3 linked regions of the Homo sapiens genome follow. The protein of the gene in region 2 purifies or fractionates together with the protein of the main gene of each other region. This does not show direct contact. Each region holds a gene or a part of one and is shown on either strand. Other genes may lie near its edges.

Region 1 (3,647 bases), on a different chromosome or scaffold from region 2:
TTATGAAGGCTTCATTACATAGGCATGGTTGATTAAATCACTGGCTATCGGTGATCAATTCAACCTTCAGCTCCTTTCTACCCTCTCAAGATGGGGGGCTGTAACTTCCAAGCCTCTGAGCACATGGTTGGTTCCTATGGCAACCAGCCAACCAGAATGTGGTAATCTAGGGACTTCTCAAAAATCACCCTATTAACATGTACCAAGGTGTGGCTGAAAGGGGCTTGTTATATGGCCGGGTGCGGTGGCTCACGCCTGTAATCCCAGCACTTTGGGAGGCCGAGGAGGGCAGATTACGAGGTCAGGAAATCGAGATCAGCCTGGCTAACATGGTGAAACCCCGTCTCTACTAAAAATACAAAAAATTAGCCAGGTGTGGTGGTGGGCGCCTATAGTCCCAGCTACTTGGGAGGCTGGGGCAGGAGAATGGCATGAACCTGGGAGGCGGAGCTTGCAGTGAGCCGAGATCGCACCACTGCACTCCAGCCTGGGCAACAGAGCGAGACTCCATCTCATAAAAAAAAAAAAAAAAAAAAAAAAAAAAGAAAGGGGCTTGTTATAAATAACAAAAGTCTGTTTTTCACCTTTCTTGCTCTGGAGCAGTTCCAGAGGTGTTTCAGGAAGCAAGGACAAAAGGCCAAATATTTTAACAGAAGATACTCTTACTGCTTTAGTCACTGAGGAAAGTACAAGGGTTATAGAAGCTGTGAGCCAGGAACTATGGAGGGAAATATATATATATATATATATATATAAAACGTCACAAGTGCTTAAGAGAGAAATTTATAATTTTAAACATCTACATCAGAAAAGAAGGATCTCAAATCACTCAAATCAGCAACATAAGATCTTACCTTAGAAACTAGAAAAGATCAAGAAAATGACAAATTCTTAGCTAGACTAACCAAGAAAATAATCAGGGACCTCACATCTGTAATCCCAGTGCTTTGGGAAAGCAGAGGCGGACAGATCACTTTAGAGTTCGAGGAGTTCAAGACCAGCCTGGCCAACACAGTGAAACCCCGTCTCTACTAAAAATACAAAAAAGTTAGCCGGGCATGGTGACACATGCCTGTAATCCCAGCTACTCGGGAGGCTGGGGCAGGAGAATTGCTTGAACCTGGGAGGCGAAGGCTGCAGTGATCATTACTGCACTCCAGCCTGGCAAGACCCCGTCTCAAAAAAAAAAAAAAAAAAAAAAAAAAAAAAAAGTGACACAAGGAGAAACAAAATATTCTGTGTACACTTAAAACAAGTAAAGAAAATGAATAATCAAATACCTTTCCACAAAGAAAAGCCGAAGCCAGCTGGGTGCCATGGCGCATGCTTGCCTATAATCCTAACCCTTTGGGAGGCTGAGGCAGGAGGATCACTAGAGGCCAGGAGTTTCAGACCAGCCTGGGCAACAGAGCAAGACCCTCTATTTAAAAAAACACAAAAATTAGCTGGGCATGGTGGTATGCCCTTGCAGTCCTAGCTTTGAGTTTGAAGGAGTCTGAGGCTGCAGTGAGCTATGATTGTGCCACTGCACTCTAGCCTGGGCAACAGAGACCCTGTCTCTAAATAAATAAATAGAGAATTTAAAAAAAAAAAAAGGAAAGGAAGAAAGAAAAGCTTAGGCCCAGGTAGCTTCACTGGTGATAACTTTTTTTTTTTTTTTTTTTTGAGACAAAGTCTCAACTGTGTTGCCTAGACTGGAGTGCAGTGGCACAATCTCGGCTCACTGCAACCTTAGCCTCCTGGGTTCAAGCGATTCTCGTGCCTCAGCCACCTGAGTAGCTGGGATTACAGATGTGAGCCACCACACCTGGCTAATGTTTGTATTTTTACAAAAACACAAATTTTACAAAAATTTACAGGGTTTCTCCACGTTGCCCAGGCAGGTCAGAAAATAACTTTTATCGGCTGGGCGTGATGGCTCACCCCTGTAATCCCAGCACTTTGGGAGGCTGAGGCGGATCACCTGAGGTCAGGAGTTTGAGACCAGCCTGACCAACATGGTGAAACTCCGTCTCTACGAAAAATACAAAAATTAGCTGGGTGTGCTGGCAGGCGCCTGTAATCCCAGCTACCTGAGAGGCTGAGGCACGAGAATCGCTTGAACCCGGGAGGCAAAGGTTGCAGTGAGCCGAGATCACACCACTGCACTCCAGTCTGGGCGGAAGAGTGAGTCTCTGTCTGAAAAAAAAGAAGATAACTTTTATCTAAAGAATCCAAGTTTTTTTAAATGATCAGGGCCCAGAGAGATATTAAAATGAGATAGCAATCACTTCCTATTCTCCCTTTTTGAGCTAAGATTCATCTATCAAAACTGCTTGCTATTGCCACAAGTGGGTAAGGATTAACCTAATAATGCCCTACCTGACGCTATATCCTACATCCTACAGCTTAATGTACAGCCAATCACTAACCAATGTTATTTCTGTAAATCAATGAGAATTCTTGATAAACAACTTTGTATGAGTCCCACTCCCTGTCCACATTTTTTTGCCTTTAAAAATCAAGTAAACTCTTCAAATCATATTTTGTGTGTTAGCCTCTTCCTTGCAGGTCAACACTTCTATAAAATACTGTAAAAAGAAATATTACCAACTGAGTGTGGTGGCTCACACCTGTAATCCCAACACTTCGGGAGGCCAAGGCTGGTGGATCACCTGAGGTCAGGAGTTCAAGACCAGTCTGGCCAACATGGTGAAACTCTGTCTCTACTAAAAATACAAAAAAATTAGCTGGGTGTGGTAGCACCCTCCTGTAATCCCAGCTACTCAGGAGGCTGAGGCGGGAGAATCACTTAAATCTGGGACAGGGAGGCTGCAGTGAGCTGAGATCGTGCCACCACACTCTAGCCTGGGCGATAGAGTGGGATTCTGTCTCAAAAAAAAAAAAAAAAAAAAAAAAATTACCAATCCATCCTTCACAAACTCCTTCAGAAACAAGATGAGGAAGGGGCTGGGCATGGTAGCTCACGCGTGTAATGCCAGCACTTTGGGAGGCTGAAGGGGGCAGATCACTTGAGGTCAGGAGTTTGAGACCAGCCTGGCCAACGTGGTGAAACCCCATCTCTACTAAAAATACAAAAATTAGCCAGATGTGGTGGTGAACACCTGTAATCCCAGCTACTCGGGACGCTGAGGCAGGAGAATCGCTTGACCTCCTCCAGGAGAACCAGGGAGACGAAGGTTGCAGTGAGCTGAGATCATGCCACTGCACTCCAGCCTGGGTGACAGGGTGAGACTGCATCTCAAAAAAAAAAATAATAATAATAATAAGGAAGATCTACAAGAGAAAATTTCTCAAATCTTGGGTTAAGATAAAGAGTTCTTAGATATGACACTAAAGCACAATACATAGGATAAAAAATGATAAATTTAATCTCATCAAAACTTAAAACTTTTGTGCTTCAAAAGGCACTGTTTAGAAAATGAAAAAACAAGTCACAGTCAGGGGGAAATACCTGGAAATCATATCTATAATAAAAGACTTGTACCCAGAATACACAGATAACTCTTACAACTCAGTAGAAGACAAACAGCCCAATTACAAAATAGGCAAATGATGTGAATAGATATTTCACCAAAGATCTACAAATGGGTAGTCAGCCCCTGAAAAGTTGCTCAGTATTATCAGTCTTTAGGAAACCACAATGA
Region 2 (4,284 bases):
AAGAGTCAAGGATGACCAAGACTTTGGGCTGGGCAGTTTGATGAATGAAGGTGCTGTTTACTGGGGTGGGAAGGATTGCAGGTAAAGCAGGTTTTCTGGAGTGGGAGTTGAGGGAGGGGGAACCAAAGCTATAGTTTTAAAGAAGGTAAATGCAGTGCCCCAGTAGAAATCCAAGTGGAGTCAGCCAGGCACAGTGGCTCATGCCTGTAATCCCAACATTTTGGGAGGCCGATGTGGGAAGATCAGTTGAGCCCAGGAGTTCAGGACTAGCCTGGGCAACATAGCGATACCCTGTCTCTTCAAAAACTAAAATAGTAGCTGGGTGTCACGCCTGTGGGCAGAGCCCAGCCAGGTGCCTGGCATTGTGTGGCAGCTGGACAAGTCAGTGTGGCTTCTCACAGGGAGACACAGGCTTTGGCTGGGCTCACAGCAGCAGGAAGAGGGACAGAGATGGGCAGGGCACTCGCCTTAGAGGGAGAATCAGCCAGGTGAGGGCTGACTGGACACAGGAGGTGAGGGAATGAAGGAGAAGGGGGGGACAGAGAGGAGCAGCCAGGTGGCCCCTACCAATAATATCTCATGATGCTCTGGGTTGACTGGGCTTAGCAGGGTCTGACCTCACTTGGAGTCTGGTGTGGTCAGATGGCAGCTGGGCCTGGAGTCTCTGAAGGTGCAGCTGGGCTGCAGCATCTAAGATGGCTTTGTCGCCATATAGCTGGTGCCTCAGTGCTTCTTTTTTTTTTTTTTTTTTTTTTTGAGACAGTCTCGTTCTGTTGCCCAGGCTGGAGTGCAATGGCAAGATCTCAGCTCACTGTAACCTCCACCTCCCGGGTTCAAGCTATTCTCCTGCCTCAGCCTCCCAAGTAGCCGGGACTACAGGCGCATGCCACCACACCTGGCTAATTTTTGTATTTTTAGTAGAGACGGGGTTTCACCATGTTGGCCAGGCTGGTCTCAAACTCCTGGCCTCAAGTGATCCTCCCACCTTGGCCTCCCAAAGTGCTGAGATTACAGACATGAGCCGCCATGCCCCACCTCTCAGTGCTTCTTTCGTGGCCTCTTCCTTCATGTCATCTCATCTTCCAGGTCCTTTCTTTCCAGCAGGGCCATCAGACTTCCTGCACAGCAACTGGCTTCCAAGGGCACAAAGCTAATGCTGCCAGGTCTTATGCATGGACCCAGAACTGGTACTGTGTTCCTTCGAGTTAACTGAGTCCACGGCCAGGTCAGAGTCAGTGTGGCATGGGGACTGCACAAGGGATGAATCATAGGCAGCACAGTTATAGGGGCCACCAAAGAGTGGGCCACAGTCACCCAGCCAGGAAGTGTGGAGCCAGGTGTGGCCTCAGATCTGTCTGGCTTTATATCCCACACTCCAACTCTTTTTTTTTTTTTTTTTTTTTTTTTTGACAGGGTCTCTCTCTCTGTCACCCAGGCTGGAGTGCATTGGTGTGATCATAGCTCACTGCAGCCTCAACCTCCTGGGTCAAGCAGTCCTCTCACCCCAGCCTCTTGAGTAGCTGGGACCACAGGTGTGCACCACCAAAATCAGCTGATTTTCTTGTAGAGTTGGGGTCTCCTTATGTTGCCCAGGCTAGTCTTGAACTCCTGGGCTCAAGCTATCCTCCTGCCTTAGCCTCCCAAAGTGCTGGGATTACAGGCATGAGCCACCGCGCCCAGCCCACACTCCCAGCTGCTACCAGATACTGACCTTTCCAGGTGTCATTGAGTGTTTGAAGTGAGGATCAGAGCAGGTCATGGTGCAGGAGGCATATTTCAGAATAACCCTGGGGATGGTGATCCTGGTCTTGTAGCCCTAACATCAGGATGGGAAGTGTCACTTGAGCACCTGCTCTATGTCAGACCCTTTACCTCTCTCTTTCTCATCATTCCTGAAACCCGCTCTGGGACTTTGTTTTCCTCCAAACTGGGAGTGCTAACAGCCTCCTCAGGATGCAGGAAGCATGCCGACAGCTCCCAGCAGAGTCTGCTCATGGGTACGCGCTCAGGCATTGCTGGTTCATTTCCTGCCACTCACGAAGCTGGCAAGTGACCTGGGTTCCCTGTTGGACCAGCCTGGGTGGAGTTGAGGGAGGGGGACAAGGCACAGAGCCTGAAACCTCCAGCTGTTCTAAATGTGAGAGCCAGTCTGGCCAGGCTCCATCTTCCACCCCATGCCAGCCTGGGCTGTGTTGAGCCTGTAAACTCACCTCCATGTCTCTTCTCTCTCCAGCAAATGGAAAGGATCCTAAAGAAGGCATCCAAAACCCACAAGCAGAGAGTGGAGGTGAGTCGCCGTGTCCAGTGGGGGAGACTGAGCCATTCAGGGTCCCAGCTGGGCCCAGAGGCTATCAGCTGGCAGAGGGAGCTGTTGGCATGTTGACGAGAAGGGAAGTTTACCTAATAGAAGTGACACTTCCCCAGGGTTATTCAAAGGGGAGCCCAGGGTTCAGGAGTCTGTAAGACCTGGCAGGGTGAGTTTGAGAGGAGGGGGCTCAGGAGAGATAGGATGTGGGAGAGGTGGGGCTGGGCAGTGCCACTTCTCCCCAGTACCCCACTTGGGTCTGCGCTGACACCGGCCTTCTACTCCACCTCCCCAGGACTTCAACAGACACCTGGACACACTCACGGAGCATTACGACATTCCCAAAGTCAGCTGGACGAAGTAGCCGCCTGCCCCCAGTATGGAGCAGCATCGAGGGTTCGCAAAAGGCCACACTGGGGTTGTGTGTGTTTCCTTTGGTATATTCTGGAAACATGGCTACACACACCCTTGCATCTTCTGCTACAGACTGCTTTTCGAAGCTGTGTACCCTCATTCTGGAACTTGATTAAAGTAAGATCGTCCTTGTACTCAGTTTAGGCTTCTTGGCAACATACAGAAGATACACCCTTTTCGTTTGGATGGAAAGTTTCTAAGTTTATCCAGAGGTAAAGCCCATTGTGTGTCTGTGTCATGTAAAAATGTTTTCACCCGAGTTGCATGTAACGCTCTGAGGCCAGCCAGCTGTCTTCTCCTGGATGAGACAGACTCCAGAGGGTAAGGAGCTAGCGCCATGGTGGCCTGCAGTATGCAGAGCCCCGCAGGACCCAGCGTGGGCGCCCTTCCAAGCTTCCTCTAGCTTTGGGCCTATGCTGTCCCCTGCAGGCCCTAGGGAAGCCACTTGCAACTATGCGGCCTTCAGACTTCCTCCTCAGCCACCTGGCCACTGAGACAGCATAGCCTGGGTAACGGAACAGCCACCTAAGGCAAGAATGGAACGGACACACCTTGCTCCTTTCTGAGCCCGTTTCCCAAAACCCCCCTTCCAGGTGCTTCTAATGGGTGTTGCCATAGCAGACGCTGCTAATGCATCACAGCATTCTTTGAAATGGAACCAGACACAGCCTGCCTCTCAATCCTCAGCTGGGGGCTCCTAGCAGCCTCTTGTATTTACTCAGAGTTGACACATCACACAGATCCTGTTTGGCATTCCTACCTTACGGACGTCTCAGGGGTGACAGGACCAGGGCAGAGCCCCGGTACAAACAGACAAGGCTGCAGTCAAATGGGAGGGTCCAGGTGTCCGTGTTGGAGGGCTGGGATCTTGTAGGGCCTGTGCGTCCTGGCTGAGGATCAAACCACATATGTTATTGGGAGAAACGATTTCTGTTGACGTAGATATTGAAAGAATAATGAAGGCAGAAGAGAAAAACGAAGTGTGGAATTTGGGGTTGTCCTGTGTAAATTACACAATAAAGCAAAAGTCAGTTATTGTAAGTCTGAGTGTCTTCTTTTTTTTTTTCCCAGACAGAGTTTCACTCTCTTGCCCAGGCTGGAGTGCAGTGGCATAATCTTGGCTCACTGCAACCTCCACTTCCCAGGTTCAAGTGATTCTCCTGCCTCAGCCTCCCAAGTAGCTGGGACTACAGGCAACCGCGACTACGCCTGGCTAATTTTTGTATTTTTAGTTAGAAACGGGATTTTTCCATATTGGCCAGGCTGATCTCGAACTCCTGACCTCAAGTGATCTGCCGCCTCAGCCTCCCAAAGTGCTGAGTGTCCTCTTATAGGCTGTTTGTCACCAAAATGTCTTTTGGATTTGTGGCACAGAAAAATATTCATACTGGAAAACGGCAACTCAGGTGGAAAAATTTCGATGGCACATCTGTTCCCGCCTATGGTTCACACCTAAGAGAGATGACACACACTCTCATTAGCAGTGGCTTTTGCCAGTGATTCTCCCATGGCCTGGTGGAAAGACAGTTTCAGACCTTTTCCTTCCACAAGCTAGCAGCAGGAGT
Region 3 (3,647 bases), on a different chromosome or scaffold from region 2:
TCAGAAAGAAAAGAACAGTGAATGTTAGAAATCATGCTTGAAACAAGCGAGAGTTTGATCTCTTTCTTTACCAGTCGTGAAATCAGAACCTTGGCCCTGCTTTTCAGGGACCTGCCTCCGTATCGTTTTAAGTGTAATCTTTAGTTTCAGGCCCAAAGAAAGGTAAAAACCTTACTTTTGGTGGTTACTATACTTGTTGAAACAGAAAACTGAAAAGTATTTAGAACTTTTGAGAAGATGGACTCAGGCAGCTCTAAGCTCTGGTTTGAAGAGCCGCTGGAAAACCTTCTGAACTTTCTTCTCCTCCAAGTGACGTCTGTTGTTTCTTTCAAAACCTAAACACAAAACCTTCACTAGAAAGCTGTCCTTAGCAGATCCCCCATCTCTCCTGCCTCTTTGCAGCATCTTCCAAATTTTTACATCACGTGGTTTTATACCGGTTGTTCTATACTAATTGTTTTATACATGCTGCTTGGCGTTAGTAATATACGGTGTACACCTGGTCCCCTCAACACAGGTAGAGACTGTTCCTTACTTCTTCCCCCTTTTCCTCTCCTGGTACTCACTTCGTCATGTTACGCCACTTAAAATGCCATCATCGCTGCTCTTTCTTTGTCCTCATAGAAATCATGACGGTCTTGAAGCAAACACAGAGCCCATTTTTCTTAACTGAGCTTGTTTTTGTATTTCAGTGTACTCGAGATTGAAGCACCGTAACTTGACGTTTAATAGCCTCATAAAACTGTGATGTTAATTGGCTTTCCACCAATCCACTGTTTTGGAACATCGTGGAAAGTGCTGAATTCTTATTTATTTAGTGAGACTTTTATTGCTACAGGAAGACAACCCATTTTATCTTTACTTTTTCAAATATTAGAGGTAGTATGAGGGAGTGAATACCTTACAGCAAACACTGTACTAATGGAAACATTGCTGTTATCTTCATTACTTACAAATTTTTCAGATTGTTCTAGAATTTTTATTGCTTTTTTTTTAACCTCCAAGTTTGTTATACTTTCCATAATTTATCTAAACTTATCCTGTCCTTTATTTCTATTTCTGTAAACTTCAAAACCGGAGAGTGGTCCTGTCTTGAGGACCTATTTGGTGAAACCATCTATTCCACATCACATTAAAACATTTGCAGAACTTATTCATTAGTACTAGGATACTTTTAAGTGGGCCAGCTTTCTTGTGGCACTGGGGGACTCATGCTGCTTTCTGAATTAGTAATTAACTGTCATGAATTGTACACATGTGCAGGTATCTGAAGCTGTTCTAAGGTAACTCAAATTCTGTAGTCTGTGGCTTGGGAGAGACTTTTCATGCTTTGTTAATAACTAAACCAAGATAAATAGATGTTCTTAGGTGGCGAGCAGCTGAACCTTTTTGACAGTTTTGACTCCTTCCTTGACTGAGTTTGCATATTCTTATTGTGGATCACGCCGACTGGCTCTCAGCTGCGTCCTGTTGCAGTGGCCAGGAGGGACGCTGGTGTCCCTTGAGCATGTGTGGGTGGCTTGCTGTTTGCATGGTGTGGGCTGAAGCCCAGCTCTCGTTTCGTGGTCACTGGCACAAATGATGGTGCTTTACAGTATTTTTCTTTCCTTGCACTCATCTGGCAGTGTGATCTTTGTGTTCATTGTTCTCATCCTCTGTCTCATCACTCTGCAGACATTTCAGTGAGTGCCTGCTGTGTGCCGGGCACCCTTGCAGGGAAGCTTGTTATCATTGCTGTTGTCATTCTGTCTTCAACAGAATATAATCTTGACTCAGGTTTTCTATTTTTATCTGTCCTGCCTTAGCAGCAGGTGGTCCCCAAATTGTGGTTGGGAGCCATTTTGTTCCTCTTCAGAGGATTCACAGATGGGAGGCTGCAGCTCCACACGCCCACCCCAGCGACTGTGGGCAGGGGCCAGCATGGCCAAGAGCTGCCTCCTCATCCTGGTGGTTCCCAGATGGAGAGATAGCCTTTGCCGTCTTCCTGTGGGTAGATTCTCGTGCCCACCTGACAAGGTGCTCCTGCCTCATGGGACCAGCCTGAGTTGGTCCTTTTGCTCATCGGGTGCCACAAAGGGGAACACAACCACACATGGAGACTGCCCATAGGAAGCACAATACTGTCCAGTCCCACGGCTGGTATTTATAGCCAGCAAAGAGCTATTCAGCAGACCCTCTGTCCATTCTCTTCCTGTCCTTCTTTTTTTTTTTTTTTCTTTCCTCTTGATATATAGACTAGGCTGATTTTAGATTCTGCTGGAATAAAGTGGCTGTCAGTCAACATCTGGGGGACGCCGGCATTTCCATCTCGTCTTAAGCTTCCTTGCCAGATGGAAGTCGCTGACACTGAAGATGGCACTAGAAGGGAAGGTGGGAACTTGAGGCTCCTTCTGGTCTGTCTGGAGGTGCTGGTCTCCAAGGAGCGTGGAGGGAGAGTGTGGGAGGAAAGGATTTCACAAGCTTCTGGACTGATCGACTGCCAACTCTCACTTAAGAGTAAAAGGAAAGAAGTGAATGAGTCATTTCAATGGTGGCTGCAGGAGGTGATCAATGTATGTGCATCTATACCAACAAGCTTGTTTGGCCTCCACGAAGGAAAGGACTGAAATTACTTTTAACAATAATACTTCCTTTTCCGTTTGTTTTCCCTTGAAGTCCGAGCTGTAATACCACTCTAGGTTTGAAGATACTTTCAGTGTTCCCAGCAGAGCACAGCCCACAAGCCCAGGAGAAATGAGGACAGAGACAGGAGGAGGCAACTGGGGATAACAAAGTGAAGGCAAAGGAGGGAGAAGCTGCTGCCTCACTTTCCTCTTCCACCAGCAGATTCTAAATTAACCCTTGGCATGGTTGAAGCCCATTTGGTCTTAAGTGAGATGTTCCCATGTGGATAAACAGCAATAAAGTTCATCTCCTTCAAGACCCAAAAGGGCCTTTATTGGAAGGTGTAAAGATTGATTTAAAGCTGGAAACAAAATGTACAGAAACTGTGAGGGAGAAAACGTTTTTGATTCAAAGCATACAGAAACTGTGAGGGGAAAGATGTTTTTCTGACCCCTCATCATTGTGGATGAGGCAAGAGGGAATTCTCTCACTTAGGTGTTAGTTGCAGTGAACAGATCCTGCTCTGACTCAGTTTCAGCAGGAAACAGCTTTTACTAAGAGAGACTGAAAGCTCATGGTTCCCTCAGAATAGATGGAGAACAGGTTTTAGGCTGAAGTTCAGGAGTGATCCCCAGAAAACTGGCCCCAAGCTCAGCGCCCACTTTGCCCCGAGCCAGCCCACCCCTGCCCCACCTGCCCCGCAAAGAGCATGTGCTCTGCCCCCGCCCTGCGCCCACGAAGCCCACGTGTGCTTCCCGGATCCCACTCAGTAGCTGCCGATCCGACTCCTGAGGGCCAGGTGGGGAGTCCCTAATCGCGAGGGAGGTTGGGACATGAAGTGTGTCTGGTGCCTGTATTGGAAAAGTAGGACTCACAATGTCAGGGGCTATTAAAATGTGTAGGAGGTGTGGAAGGATTAGGGGCAGCTACACATTTAGTTGTCCCTATTGGCAAATACAGCACAGAAATTCCTAACAATAGGAGTTAATGGTAAAAGTTTAATTAAAAATGCAGAAATTATTTGTGACTAATTACTGAAGATG

What was found.
Region 1: the proteins of FAM32A (region 2) and ZNF346 purify together in Homo sapiens (co-immunoprecipitation; one large-scale study listed by IntAct). This does not show direct contact.
Region 3: the proteins of FAM32A (region 2) and DUSP22 purify together in Homo sapiens (co-immunoprecipitation; one large-scale study listed by IntAct). This does not show direct contact.

What each region holds. Positions count from the first base shown.
Region 1 is NC_000005.10:177,025,605-177,029,251, reverse strand, and holds part of ZNF346 (zinc finger protein 346), read right to left. Parts: intron 1-3,647.
Region 2 is NC_000019.10:16,188,287-16,192,570, forward strand, and holds the end of FAM32A (protein FAM32A), read left to right. Parts: intron 1-2,233; coding exon 2,234-2,287; intron 2,288-2,600; coding exon 2,601-2,669; 3' UTR 2,670-3,760; downstream 3,761-4,284. UniProt on the Homo sapiens protein: Isoform 1, but not isoform 2 or isoform 3, may induce G2 arrest and apoptosis. May also increase cell sensitivity to apoptotic stimuli.
Region 3 is NC_000006.12:330,445-334,091, forward strand, and holds part of DUSP22 (dual specificity protein phosphatase 22), read left to right. Parts: intron 1-3,647. UniProt on the Homo sapiens protein: Dual specificity phosphatase; can dephosphorylate both phosphotyrosine and phosphoserine or phosphothreonine residues. Activates the JNK signaling pathway.